2 linked regions of the Homo sapiens genome follow. The protein of the gene in region 2 interacts with the protein of the main gene of each other region in a pairwise test. Each region holds a gene or a part of one and is shown on either strand. Other genes may lie near its edges.

The links. The genes of interacting proteins can lie anywhere in the genome.
Region 1: the proteins of SEC23IP (region 2) and SSC5D interact in binary tests that used the Homo sapiens proteins (3 or more experiments, as listed by UniProt).

The regions. Positions count from the first base shown.
Region 1 is NC_000019.10:55,512,435-55,519,465, reverse strand, and holds the end of SSC5D (soluble scavenger receptor cysteine-rich domain-containing protein SSC5D isoform 1 precursor), read right to left. Parts: intron 6,456-7,031; coding exon 6,294-6,455; intron 2,243-6,293; coding exon 468-2,242; 3' UTR 367-467; downstream 1-366.
Region 2 is NC_000010.11:119,937,712-119,944,742, reverse strand, and holds the end of SEC23IP (SEC23-interacting protein), read right to left. Parts: intron 4,158-7,031; 3' UTR 86-4,157; downstream 1-85. UniProt on the Homo sapiens protein: Plays a role in the organization of endoplasmic reticulum exit sites. Specifically binds to phosphatidylinositol 3-phosphate (PI(3)P), phosphatidylinositol 4-phosphate (PI(4)P) and phosphatidylinositol 5-phosphate (PI(5)P).

The DNA of each region.
Region 1 (7,031 bases), on a different chromosome or scaffold from region 2:
CATCATCATCATCATCATGTCCACCGCCTCATCACCATGACCATTCCCTCATGACCAGGACCATCATCATCATCATGATAATCATCATCATCATGTTCACCGCCTCATCACCATGACCATTCCCTCATGATCATCAGCATTATTTCACCATCTTCATCACCACCACCATCTTACCATTATCACCATGACCCTCACCACAATGATCATCACCCTATCATGATCTCCGTCGCCATCACCATCACGATCATCACCATCATCACCACCCTCATAATCATCTCCATCATCAACACCGCCTGGCATGGCACCTGGGCTATTCACATATCAAAATCAGTCTTGTGATTCTGTCTTTCTAGGATTCCCCAAAAATACCATTCACACCTTGTTTTTAATTAGATACTTTGGGGGTTTTTTTTGTTTTTGTTTTTTTTGGTTGGGGGTGTCTTAAGCCCCTCAAATCCTGGAGAGGGTCACACGTCTCCCCTCAGGGGTCTTTCTTCTTCCTCTGGGGTAGTGGTGGTTGGTGCAGGCATGCTGGTGGTCCAGGCCATCTCTGCCAGTCTCTTCACAGCCTCACCCAGCTGCCCCAGACCCCGGGCAGCTTCTACCAGCTGCGTCAGCCCCAGCAGCAGGGCTTGGCGCTCCTGCCGCTCCTGTTCCACGACCTGGGTCAGTCTCTGCAGCTGACCACCCACATCCCTCACAGCAGCCACCAGCTCCACCAGGGCAGGTGGCTCACAAGCCATGACCCTTACAGGTGGTGTTGGGGCCACACATGGACCATGGGGGCCTGGGCTCTGACCAGGAGTTGGCCCTAGGGTGAGGGGGTCAAGGGGAGGATGATCCAAGGGGTGGGCTGTGGGGGAAAGGAGGGGGTCAGGGGACACAGTAAGGTCAGAGGCTGAGTGTGGGGTATGGGTGGGTGGAGGGGTTAGGTTGGGGCTCTGGCTTCTGGGTGGCTTGAAGTCCTCAGTGGACAGTGGGTCCATGCTTGTGGCTGTGGAGGACCTGGAGGGGCTGGACTCCAAGGCTGGAGAGGGCTCTAAGGTGGGTATCTGGGATGTGGAGGTGTGAGGGGCAGGTGCTGTGAAGGTCAACTGGGGGTGCAGACTGGGCTTGACTGTTGGTGCTAGAGTGGGAGAGGAGAGTTCTGTCCCCAAGGAGGTTGGAAGGGACACAGTAGTGATGACAGGGGTTGAGGAAGGGTCAGGAGTTGTGGGGTGAGGGGTCGTGGTGGGATCAGGAGTAGTGGTGGGGTAAGGGGTCGTGGTGGGGTCAGGAGTCATGGTGGGGTGAGGGGTTGTGGTGGGGTGAGGGGTTGTGGTGGGGTGAGGAGTCGTGGTGGGGTGAGGGGTCGTGGTGGGATGAGGCATCGTGGTGGGCTGCATGGTGGTGAAGGGTTGAGGGGTTGTGGTGGGGTCAGGAATCATGGTGGAGTGAGTGATGGTGGTGGGATGAGGGGTCGTGGTGGGGTGAGGGGTTGTGGAGTGAGGGGTTGTGGTGGGCTGCATGGTGGTGAAGGGTTGAGGGGTTGTGGTGGGGTCAGGAATCATGGTGGAGTGAGTGATGGTGGTGAAGGGTTGAGGGGTTGTGGTGGGGTCAGGAATCATGGTGGAGTGAGTGATGGTGGTGGGGTGAGGGGTCGTGGTGGGGTGAGGGGTGGTAGGGAAGTGAGGGGTCACAGTAGGGTTAAGGGTTGTGATGGGGTCAGGGGCCATGGTGGGATCAGGGGTAGTAGTGGGGTGAGGGCTTGGGGAGGGGTCTGGGGATCTAGAATATTCTGAGACTGTACTGGAGTATGGAGTTGTGTCCAAATCTGGGGTTGTGTCAGATTCTGGGACCTGCTCTGAGGTAGGGGAAAGGCTGGTCACCTCCGACGGTGTAGAAGGGTCAGAGGTCAGCTCTTTGGGCAAGGTGGGTAAGGGCGTGGGTGAGGGCTCCGGGGTCAACGCGGGAACCACACTGGAGTCAGGGGTGGACAAAGCAAAGTCAGGGCTTGTCAAGATGAGGTCGGGGTTCGTCCGGGAGGCCGGGTCTGGGGTGGGTGGTGAAGTGTCCGGAGCGTCAGAGGTCGCCTCGGACGTCAAGGCTGAGTGGGGAGTGAGCTCTCGACTGGAGTCAGAGGTCAGCGCTGGGCCTGGGGGTCCCGGAGAGGCGGAGGGACCTGGGGACGGGGTTGGGGGCGCTGTCCTGGTCGCAGCGGGCCGCGGTGGCCGGCGCTCGGGCCACGGTTTCCTCGGGGAACCTGGAGGAGGAGGAAAGACAGACGGACGGTCTGAGGTCAACCGGCTCCGCCCACCACGCGTCCCGCCCCGCCCCTCGAGGAGCCGACCAATGGAAAGGCACAGAGCCTCGAGACGTCATGGGTCACCGGCAGACTTCACCCGGCCCTAGGGCCCCTCCTCCCTACGTCCTCCGATGGCTCCAGGCGCCACCTGGCGTCCTCCACTGCGGGAGGATGCGGGGATGCTCCGGACTCGGGGATGCCGAGGGGCACGCGGGTTGCGGGAGCGGGTGCAGGAGGGTGAGGTGAGGGAGGGATGCGTGGGGTGCTGGGGTGCGGGAGGGGGCGGGAGTGCTCAGAAGCGTGCAGCATACGGGAGGATTCTGAGCCAGCGGGGGACTGGGAGATGTGCGGAGCCAGGGGAGGCAGGGAGACCAAAGAGGGCTCCGAAGGGTAATGTTAGTAATCAAAATAAATACTTTTATGGATTTTTTTATTTTTTAAGATAAAGTCTGGCTGTGTCGCCCAAGCTGGAGTGCGGTGGCAAGATCATAGCTCACTGTAACCTCGAACTCCTGGGCTCAAGCGTTTTTATGCAATATTTTTAAACAATCAAAATTAATCCAAAAGATCCACAGTTAACCAAAGTTAACATTTTAACCAAAGACGGGATCCAACAGGGCCAGGATTAGGGGGAGCCCAGCGAGGCGGATAGGATCCTGTCTTCAGTGACTTTTTTTTTTTTTTTGAGATGGAGTCTCGCTCTGTCGCCCAGGCTGGAGTGCAGTGGCGTGATCTCGGCTCACTGCAAGCTCCGCCTCCCGGGTTCACACCATTCTCCTGCCTCAGCCTCCCGAGTAGCTGGGACTACAGGCGCCCGCCACCACACCAGGCTAATTTTTTGTATTTTTAGTAGAGACGGGGTTTCACCGTGTTGGCCAGGATGGTCTCGATCTCCTGACCTCGTGATCCGCCCGCCTGGGCCTCCCAAAGTGCTGGGATTACAGGCATGAGCCATCGCGCCCGGCCTTCAGTTACATTTTTGATACCGAGTTCATCATGGGTTTTTTTTTTTTTGGCATTAATTTTCATTTTAAAAAATACTGTATTATGATATTATGTATCTTGATTTTGGCGTTTTGGGCACCCCCTTAAATTTTGGGCCTGAGTAGCAGGAGGAGCCTGACCCTCTTCTGGGGCTGTCTTCCAAGTGAGTGCCAATTTTATCCCCATTTTACAGAAGGGGGAAATTAGGGCAAGAGGGCAGGTGACTCGCCCAAGGTCACACAGACATAGTTTGCAAGTTGCAGGGCTAAGACTTGAACCCAAGTTGTTTGCACATAGAGTCTAGGCAATGAAATCTCACATCTGCAGTGATGGGAATGCGCTGTGATCTACCGTGCCAATACAGTAGCCACTGGCCACATGTGGCTACCAAGCCCTTGAAATGCGGCCAGTGTGAATGAGAAACTAAATGTTTCATTTTCTTTTATTTTATTTTATTTTTTTTTTTGAGACGGAGTCTCACTCTGTCGCCCAGGTTAGAGTGCAGTGGCACGATCTCGCCTCACTGCCAGCTTTGCCTCCCAGGTTCATGCCATTCTCCTGCCTCAGCCTCCCGAGAAGCTGGGACTACAGGCGCTCGCCACCATGTCCTGCTAATTTTTTGTATTTTTAGTAGAGATGGGGTTTCACTGTGTTAGCCAGGACGGTCGCGATCTCCTGACCTCGTGATCCGCCCGCTTCGGCCTCCCAAAGTGCTGGGATTACAGGCGTGGCCACTGCGCCCGGCAAATGTTTCATTTTCAAAGTGTTAATTCATTTAACTTTTTTTTTTTTTTTTTTTTTGAGACGGAGTTTCACTCCTGTTGCCCAGGCTGGAGTGCAGTGGCGCGATCTTGGCTCGCTGCAATCTCCGCCTCCTGGGTTCAAGTGATTCTCCTGTGTCCACTTCCTGAGTAGCTGGGATGACAGGCATGTGCCACCATGCCCAGCTAATTTTTTTGTATTTTTAGTAGAGATGGGGTTTCACTATGTTGTTCAGGCTAGTCTTGAACCCCCGACCTCAGGTGATCTGCCTGCCTCAGCCTCCCAAAGTGCTGGAATTTCAGGCGTGAGCCACCATGCCCGGTGCTCTTAGCTACCGTATTGAACCACACAGATCTACAGATTTCCACTTGTTCCTGCAGGGCAGGGTCTTTCAGGCGCATCCCTTCCCCACCTTGTCCTTTGTTTGCAGGATTGGAGAAGCGGTTAAGTAAAGGGCTTGTGCTCAAGGCAGGCTGTCCGAGTTTAAACCCCAGCTGCATGGCTTCCTAGCGGGGTGACCACGGCCAAGTTACTTCACTGCTTGAATCTCAGTTTCTTCCTCAGCTATAGACTGTGGATGATCCGCGTATCTCCCTTGCAGAGCTGTCAAAAGGACTCAGGGAGACCATGGTTGTGCAAAGCACTTAGTGTAATGTCTAGCATGGAATAAGCACTCTAATAATTATTGATGTCAGAGTCACTGATGTCTGTGCCTCAATTTCACTCATCTGAGAAATGGGCAAAATTATAGATCTACGTCATGGAGCTCATGCAGATTTCCTTCCCTCCTTTCTCCCTTCCTCCCTTCTTCTCTCTCTCTCTTTTTTTTTTTTTTTTAACAGAGTCTTTCTCTGTTGCCCAGGCTGGAGTGCAGTGGTGCGATCTCAGCTCACTGCAACCTCCGCCTCCCAGGTTCAAGCAGTTCTCCTGCCTCAGCCTCCCGAGTAGCTGGGATTACAGGCGCCTGCCACCACACCTATTATTATTATTATTATTATTATTATTATTATTATTATTATTATTATTATTTTGAGACAGAGTCTCACTCTGTTGCCCAGGCTGGAGTGCAGTGGCGCAATCTCGGCTCACTGCAAGCTCTGCCTCCTGGGTTCACGCCATTCTCCTGCCTCAGCCTCCCGAGTAGCTGGGACCATAGGTGCCTACCACCACGCCTGGCTAATTTTTTGTATTGTTAGTAAAGACAGGGTTTCACCGTGTTAGCCAGGATGGTCTCGATCTCCTGACCTCGTGATCTGCCCGCCTCAGCCTCCCAAAGTGCTGGGATTACAGGCGTCAGCCATTGCAGCCAGCCTAATCATGCTTAACTTTACTAAATACTGCTGGATTGTCTTTATCAAACAGCTCTGTCCAGTGGGGTTGCCTGTCTTCCCACATCCTCACTCACACTGGATAATACCCACCTTTCTCATTCTCCTCTGTACTTGCCATTGTTTTAATTTGTATTTTCTGGTTCCTGATGAGCGTGGGCATTTCTAAATACACTCAGCCATTTGGGCTTCCTTTTCTGGGAATCACCTGTTTTCCTCTTTCTCATCTAGGGTTTCCTATCATTTTCCTATTTGTCACAGTGACTTATGCCATCTAGGCTGGGGTTTCTCAACCTCGGTACTATTGTAATTTAGGGCTGGGTGGTTCTTTGTTATGGGGAATGTCGTGTGCATTGTGAATGTTTATCACCACCCCGGCCTCTACCGATCAGGTGCCAATGGGTAGCCTCTCACTTCCTGCCATGACAATCCAAAATATCTTCAGATATTGCCAAATTCCCCTTGGGGGCAAAATCGACCCTAGTTGATGACCAGCGGTCTAGATAATAACCTCTTGGTTCTGTTTTTGTCTTTATTTGAGACAAGGTCTCGCTCTGGCACCCAGGCTGGAATACAGTGGCACAACCACAGCCTCGAGCACCCAGGCTCAAGGGATCCTCCTGCCTCAGCCTCCCAAGCAGCTGGGACCACACGTGCGTACCACCACACCCAGCTAATGTTCATATCTTGGGGGGCTCACCATGTTGCCCAGGCTGCTCTCAAACTCCCGAGCTTAAGCAATCCTCCCAACTCGGCCTCCCAAAGTGCTGTGATTACAGGCATGAGCCACCATGCTCAGCCGATAACCCTTTGTTTTAGGGTATATTTCTGCTGAGTCTTTCTGGGGTAAGGGTTCCAGTGGGGAGTCTGGAATCTGTCTCTTTACCCCAGGACAAATACCGTCCCAGTCTCCTCACCCCAGCCACGTGTCTCACCTGTGTCTCCATGGACTCTCAGAGTTGGAGGACTGCCTGGGCTCCTGGTGGTGCCAGCCCCAAGAGTTGGTCCTAGTTTGCCTGCGGTAGGGGTCCCCTCAGCCAGGCCCCTTCCTGATGGTGTGTCCCACGTCCAGGGAAGCTTGTAACCATCTTTGCTGCCTAGAGAGATATGGGGAAGAGGATTGAGTCTTCCAACTTCCCTTTGAGTTTGACTCCCCGTCTCTCTCCTCCTGGGCCAGCCCCAGTTCAGGCATCATCCCGTCTCAACTGCACCGCCACTGCAGCCCTACCTGACCTCGTGGAGACCTTCTCCATTCAGCTGGGATGTTTTTGGCTACCAACGACGGAAACGGTCACTAAACTAGCACATAAAATGAAGGGCATTTGGGCCTGGCGCCGTGGCTCAAGCTTGTAATCCCAGCACTTTGGGAGGCTGAGGCAGGCAGATCACTTGAGGTCAGGAGCTCAAGACCAGCCTGGCCAACATGGAGAAACCCCATCTGCACTAAATATACAAAAAATTAGCTGGGTATGGTGGCACACGCCTATAATCCCAGCTACTCGGGAGGCTGAGACAGGAGAATCACTTGAACCTGGGAGACAGAGGTTGCAGTGAGCCAAGACTGTGCCACTGCACTCCTGCCTGGGTGACAGAGCGAGACACCGCCTCAAAAAAAAAAAAAAAGGAATTTATTATTTTAATTCCTCAAGGCTCCTGCCCTAGCGGGGGAAAAA
Region 2 (7,031 bases):
CTTTCCAATATTCCAAACTGTGCTCCTTTCAACAAGAGTGAATGCTATTAAGCGGCTGCAAAAATAAAAGCACCACTAGAAATGCTTTCTTTAAAAATTGTTTAATGAAAATCACACTCAACACATTCACATAGCTCTCTCTCTGCATTTCGTGCTTAACAACATAATTTCTTCAGTCGCCCCAGTTGTGATGTTCTTTCCAACCTCGCGTCTTTCCACAGGTCTGGAATGCACTGTCCTTTTTCCGTCTTCACCTGGCCACATCTCTTTACCTGTCTTTTAGGTCCCTGACTGTATTAGTCCATTTTCACACTGCTATCAAGGTACTACCTGAGACTGGGCAATTTATAAACAAAAGGGGTTCAAGTGACTCACAGTTCTGCATGGTTGGGGAGACCTCAGGAAACTTACAATCATGACGAACCTCGGGGAACTTACAATTGTGACGAAAGGCAAAGGGGAAGCAGGCACCTTCTTCACAAGGTGGCAGGAGAGAGTGCAGGGAAAACTGCCACTTTTAAAACCATCAGATCTTGTGAGAACTCCCTCACTATCACAAGAACAGCATGGGGAAACAGCCCCCATGATCCAATCACCTCCCACCAGGTCCCTCCCCTGACACGTGGGGATTACAATTCAAGATGAGATTTGGGTGGGGACACAGAGCCAAATCATTATCACTGACACCACCCCTGAAGCTGGGAAAAGGGCACATGGGGATTCACTGTACCATTCTCCATACTTTTGAGTATTTGTGAAAATTCCATAGTAAGGTCTTTTAAAAACCACTCTTTATACAAGAAATGAAAGACAAACATGGTGGGTTATCCCAACCACACCAGTCCCACCTGTCCATGAACCTGAACTGCAGCACATCCACTAACGAATATGTAGCATTGCCCACTATCTCACAGATGTGTCCTCAATAACCCCTGGCCTGTTTTATGTGTCATCATAAAATTTCATATATTGAAATATGTGAAACTCATTTCACTTAATCTGAAGCTGAAAGAAGTATTAAAGAGCTGGAATTATTTCCCAAACTCCCACTGGTGTTAACAACATGACATTATTTTCAGTGTTCTCTGGGACCAATACATTCGGGAAATCTGCAAGAGTTGCTGTTTTATTTTTTATTCATTTATTTTTTTTTGAGACAGAGTCTCGCTCTGTCACTCAGGCTAGAGTGCAGTGGCGAGATCCCAACTCACTGCAACCTCCACCTCCTGGGTTCAAGCAATTCTCCTGCCTCAGCCTCCTGTAGCTGGGACTACAGGCACATGCCACCATGCCCAGCTAATTTTTTTTATTTTTAGTAGAGATGGGGTTAACCCCCTGAGGAGTATTATAGAAATGTCATGAAGACAGGTTAGCTGACAGTCTGTCCCGTGCACCGCAGGGACAGTCAACAGCAGGAACACAATGTCAGCACCCCAGCTCATAGAGGAACTGAATTCTATCCACTCTCCTCTGAGGACCCAGCCCTGGGAAACTGACTCAAACTAAGCTGGAATGCCAACTTATTAAGTTACAATGAGAACTATAACTTGGAGGAAAACCAAAACACTCAGTGTCTGCAGTTCAAGTTTCCACCAGAAAGCTGCTTGGTAAACACTAAAGTACAGCATTAAGATAGTTAGATGCCTCAAGTCATAAAAACCTGAAACAATGGTACTATAAATACCAATCATCCTAGGTTTTCTGGGATAATCTTCAGTACTCTTATCATGAGACCAAATGCTGTGAGTTACTATTTCAAATACATGATCATCCCTGCCAAGATAGCGGCATCTCCTCCTTTTCATGTACAGGGTTCTATATAGATCACACCTTTCCAATAACATACTTACCTCAAAAATCACTCGAATCTGTGCAGTTTCCTTGTCTTATACTGTGGTTTTGAGAAAACATGCTTGTCTGGTTGGATTCAAGAAGCACGCGTGTCCAGCAGACTTAGAAAGCAGGTTCCTCTTGTCATACAGCACGTTAACATAGCTGACGAGGCCTGGGTGTCTTCATCAGTACTGTGATGACTCTTTCACCTTTGACTTCAGATGCTGGCGCTTTTTACTTTTTGTGCCAAACTCTACACATGAAACACTTTTGGAATAACTACAGACATGACTTTCTTTATCTGGGGAAAAGGAGGGCATTAAACCAGATTAGGGGCTGGGAGGGGAGGTTGTCAGGGGATGAGCTGCTCCTGAGGAAGAGGCAGAGATCAAGCTTCACTCAGCAGCTGGATTCTCACCTAGTTTATAGACTGAAATCCTGCAAGGTGGTTACAACAGTGAACAATATGTTCATACATAAAGACTCTACCCTCAGGGGATCTACTGTTTTTTGGTTTTTAAGAGACTGAATAGTAATACATACATACATACATATGTGTGTGTGTATATATATATATGTATGTATGAGTATATATATCCACAGGCAGAGTCACTCAAAAATTCTATTTTCTGTGTACTCAAGTATTAAAATGAAAGGGCAAGACTGCTGCCACTCAGCTGCCACATGCTTCTTCTACGAACCCTGGTCCTTCTCTGCCCATTACTCAGAAGACAGGCTGAATGACACAAACAAAAATCAGATGTAAGTTGAAAAATCAAATTGGATTTTATTGAAATGTATATAAATAACCCTCATTTTTCTTTATTTCATCAGTATTGGGAAATTAAGTGAAAAGTAATTAAAAAGTAGTAGTCCTGAGAGAGAGAAATGAAGGCTGAAAGGGAATCAAGAAAACCATATTCCATCCCAGATCTGCCACTACCCAGTCTGGGAAAGGCATTTATTGTCCTGGCCTCAGCTGTAGAATGAGGTGGCTGAAATCTATGTTGTCTGGAGTCAATTACAGCTCTACAATCTTGCTGTTCTAATTCTACCATTAGGAGCCAATGCTAACGTTACATACTGACCATATAAGCAGGTACTCAAAATGAAAAGGGAATAAACACTGAGTTCATGGGGACACTTTTAAGGAAGACAAGAGAAATACATAAGTTTGCTGCTTAAAAAATGCATTAATGTTACTGCTTTATTCACACTAATTAGAATACATACACAAAAAATGTGTATCATATATCACTTTCAAAAATTTCCATGTTCCATGAGAACTATGTAAACAATGCAAAATGTTTCCACTACGTAACAAAAGAAAATCAGCATTCCCACATAGTATTAGGAAAATATTTGGATAATCTGAATTTATAGTAAAACAAAGTGATCTGAATTTGTAGTAAAACAAAGTGAAATATTACAAAGCAGTCTTGTCATGAAGTAGCCTTATATAACTCAGAAGCAACACATTTCATACTTTCAAACACTTTGGTATAAGTGAAATTAATAGAAAACAAAAAGAAGAAGAAAAAAACCTCTACTTTGGTTTTCACATTATTGGAACTTCAGCAACAAGGCAAGTGCACAGCTACCTTGGATGACAAAATGGAAAACCTCTCATCTGCTTGCTTCTCCTCCTGGAAATGGACGTGCTAGGAGAGCGCTTCCCAGGACTTCTTGAAAATAAGGTGCATCTCACTTCTTTCCACAATCAGGCTCTCAGCAATCGTTTGAGGGATTTATAAAACCTCAGATTCAGTTGGGATATGAGTGATCTTGATTATTTCCTCTTAACAAATATAAATGACCTTGCATTAAGGCAGCTCAGAAGTACAATTCACATTTTAAGTAGAACATAAATCTCTTAAAAATCATATTACTATAGTTTCTCAACAAGTTCATACTTGAATAAAAAGAACATACTGCATTAATAAAAAGAAAAATCCAAGTTTAATAGCCCACTAACAATACTTTTTAAGAAACAGAAATAACCGTTTACATGCTACAAATATTTCTTCATTGATATCACATATAACTTTGACAACTATACAACTAAACTGATCTGTGGAATTTTTCATGGCATCATTTTTATAATTATGTTTTCTCACCTATACTGTCCAAATGTGGTACTGATTTTTTTCACTGTGTTAGTTCTGTGTCCTGTCTTTTGAATCCCTATATCCGAGAATTGTGGCTGAGCAATTGTTAATGAATCACTCTTCTGTCATCCATCACAGGAGCGAAGTGGGAAAGTCCTCTGAGGATTTTCTCAGCAATGGAAGTTGTACTGGGACTTTCTGTGCAGACAAGAAAGTCTTAAAAAGGAAAAAAAAAAAAAACCTCAGTGAACTTTACAAATTTACAGTCAAATACCATGCATCGTTGTCTTTTCTGAAGTAAAAGAACAGACAATCGGCCAGGCACGGTGTCTCACGCCTGTAATCTCAGCACTTTGGGAGGCCGAGGTGGGCAGATCACAAGGTCAGGAAATCGAGACCATCCTGACTAACATGGTGAAACCCCATCTCTACTGAAAATACAAAAAATTAGCTGGGCATGGTGGCGGGTGCCTGTAATCCCAGCTACTCTGGAGGCTGAGGCAGGAGAATGGTGTGAACACGGGAGGCGGAGCTTGCAGTGAGCCAAGATGACGCCACTGCACTCCAGCCTTGGGGACAGGGTGAGACTCCATCTCAAAAAAAAAAAAAAAAAATGGACAATCCAGTGCTCAACTTTACTGACAAACACTGCAAACCGCCTCCAAAGAGCACAGCCTGTAAGCAAGTCCTCAGGCCTTCCAAAGGGACAAGAATGCCCAGGAAACACTCAGTAAGATTAACCAGCATGATTTCTTCATAGCAAAGCCAGTACAGAGAGTAAAAGACACAATTTAAAGTTAGTTATGGCCAAGTGTTGTGGCTCACGCCTGTAATCCCAGCACTGTGGGAGGCCGAGGCAAGTGGATCATCTCAGCTCAGAAGTTCGAGACCAGCCTGGGCAACTTGGGGGAACCCTGTCTCTACCAAAAAATAAAAAAATTAGCCAGACGTGGTGGTGCACACCTGTGGTCCCAGCCTCTCGAGATGCTAAGTTAGGAGGATCGCTTGAGCCTGGGAGTCAGAGGTTGCAGTGAGCCAAGATTGCGCCACTGCACTCACACAAGCTGGGTGACAGAGTGAGACCCCTTCTCAAAAAATTAAAATATTTTATTTTATTTTTTTTCTTTGAGACAGAGTCTCGCCCTGTCGCCCAGGCAGGAGTGCAATGGCACGATCTCAGCTCACTGCACCCTCAGTCTCCCAGGTTCAAAAGATTCTCCTGCCTCAGCCTCCCAAGTAGCTGGGACTACAGGTGTGTGCTACCACGCCCGGCTAATTTTTGTATTTTTAGTAGAGACAAGATTTCACTATTTGGCCAGGCTGGTCTCGAACTCCTGACCTTGTGATCCGCCTTGGCCTCCCAAAGTGCTGGGATTACAGGCATGAGCCACCGTGACCAGCTAAAATATTAATAAAAAATAAAGTTAGTTATCTGCCATGTTAATTTGAGGCTTTTTTATTTTTTATTTAATTATTTATTTTTGAGACAGGGTCTCACTCTATAATCCAGGCTGGAGTGCAGTGGTACGATCACAGCTCACTGCAGCCTCAATCTCCCGAACTCCAGCAATCCTCCCACCTCAGCCTCCCAAGTTGCTGGGACTACAGGTGCACACCATCATGCCCCAGTGATTTTTTTTTTTTTACTTTTAGTAGAGACAAGTAATGTCTTGTCTATGTTGCTAAGCTGGTCTCGAACTCCTGAGCTCAAGCGATCTGCCTGCCTCAGCCTCCAAAGTGCTAAGATTACAGGTGTAAGCCACCACACCTGGCCAATTTGAGGCTTTTCAAAGAACAATCCTAAAAAGGTCTAAAAGGACATGAACATAAAACAACCATTCAGCAAAACTGATCTAAGCTTGAATGAACTATGTATAGAATAATTGTTAACATTTTAAATGGATTATCTTATGACATTAGTATAGTATTAGAAACTTAAATTCTTGCCTAAATTTTACAGCCAAGTGTAAGAAGAAGTAAATAAAACAATTATAGTGAACGAATCATATGTGAAATAGAAGGTTCTGAGTTTTCCATATAAGGTGATGGCAAAATCCTAGAATTACTATTCTTTTGGTTTTGTTTGTCTTGCTTTGTTTTGTTAGGGGAGAGAGCGTCAGGGGAACTTAAATTATTTCGAACTTCATTCGGGATAACTGCAAAGACTATGGTATACTGAGAACTTCTACTGCCAGATATTATGTAAAAAATTACAATTATTAAAACACCATATTTCACCAAATCTAAGACACTGTTGATTGTGACACTTCACTGTTATGTACCATAAAAAGATGCCCAGAAAGGGAGTCTCAAAGGAGAACCCCTCACAAAAAGTGGGGGACTAAACATCTATAGTCTCAATGAGGGATAAAAGCAAGCAACTACATGCAGAAGGGATGGCAAAGAGGCCTGCGCACCTCTTCCTTGACAATGGAAAGAGGGAACAAAAACTCCAATATCTGAACTGACAACCCCATCCCTGCAAATTTTGGGGGCTGAAATCACACTACCAGCATCATCCTAAAAAATCCCAAGCAGAGAAATTAGCTTAAGCAGAGGCAAGTTGGTAAAGCCCCTCCCCCAGTGACCAGCAGAAGAGAATGCACAGCTTCTCAGAAAGAACTCAACTTCCGTTAAGGCAACAGCTGACTTAAATTTTTTTTTTTTTTTTTTTTAAGAGACGAGGTTTCACTATGTTGCCCAGGCTGGTCTCAAACTCCTGGGCTCAAGTAATCCTCCCACAGCGCTGGGATTACAGGTATGAGCCACTGCACCAGCCCCAACAGCAGATTTTAAGATGCATTACAAATTTAAATATGTTAAAATGTGGAAAATAAATGGCTTGAAATCAATGAAGTATCATAGACAAATAAATCACCAGAAGAGATGAGAAAGCCTAGGAAACAAATATTAATTAAAATGTCAAACAACAGCAAAATATTTGGCATATGATAAAAATATCAAACCAATGACAAAAGGGTACATTATTCAATATATGGCACAGACAGAAACGATTATGTAAGAAAAAAGTTAAATTGTTCTCTACACCTTACTCTTCTAAATTACAAAGCCAAATGGGGAAAAAAAGAA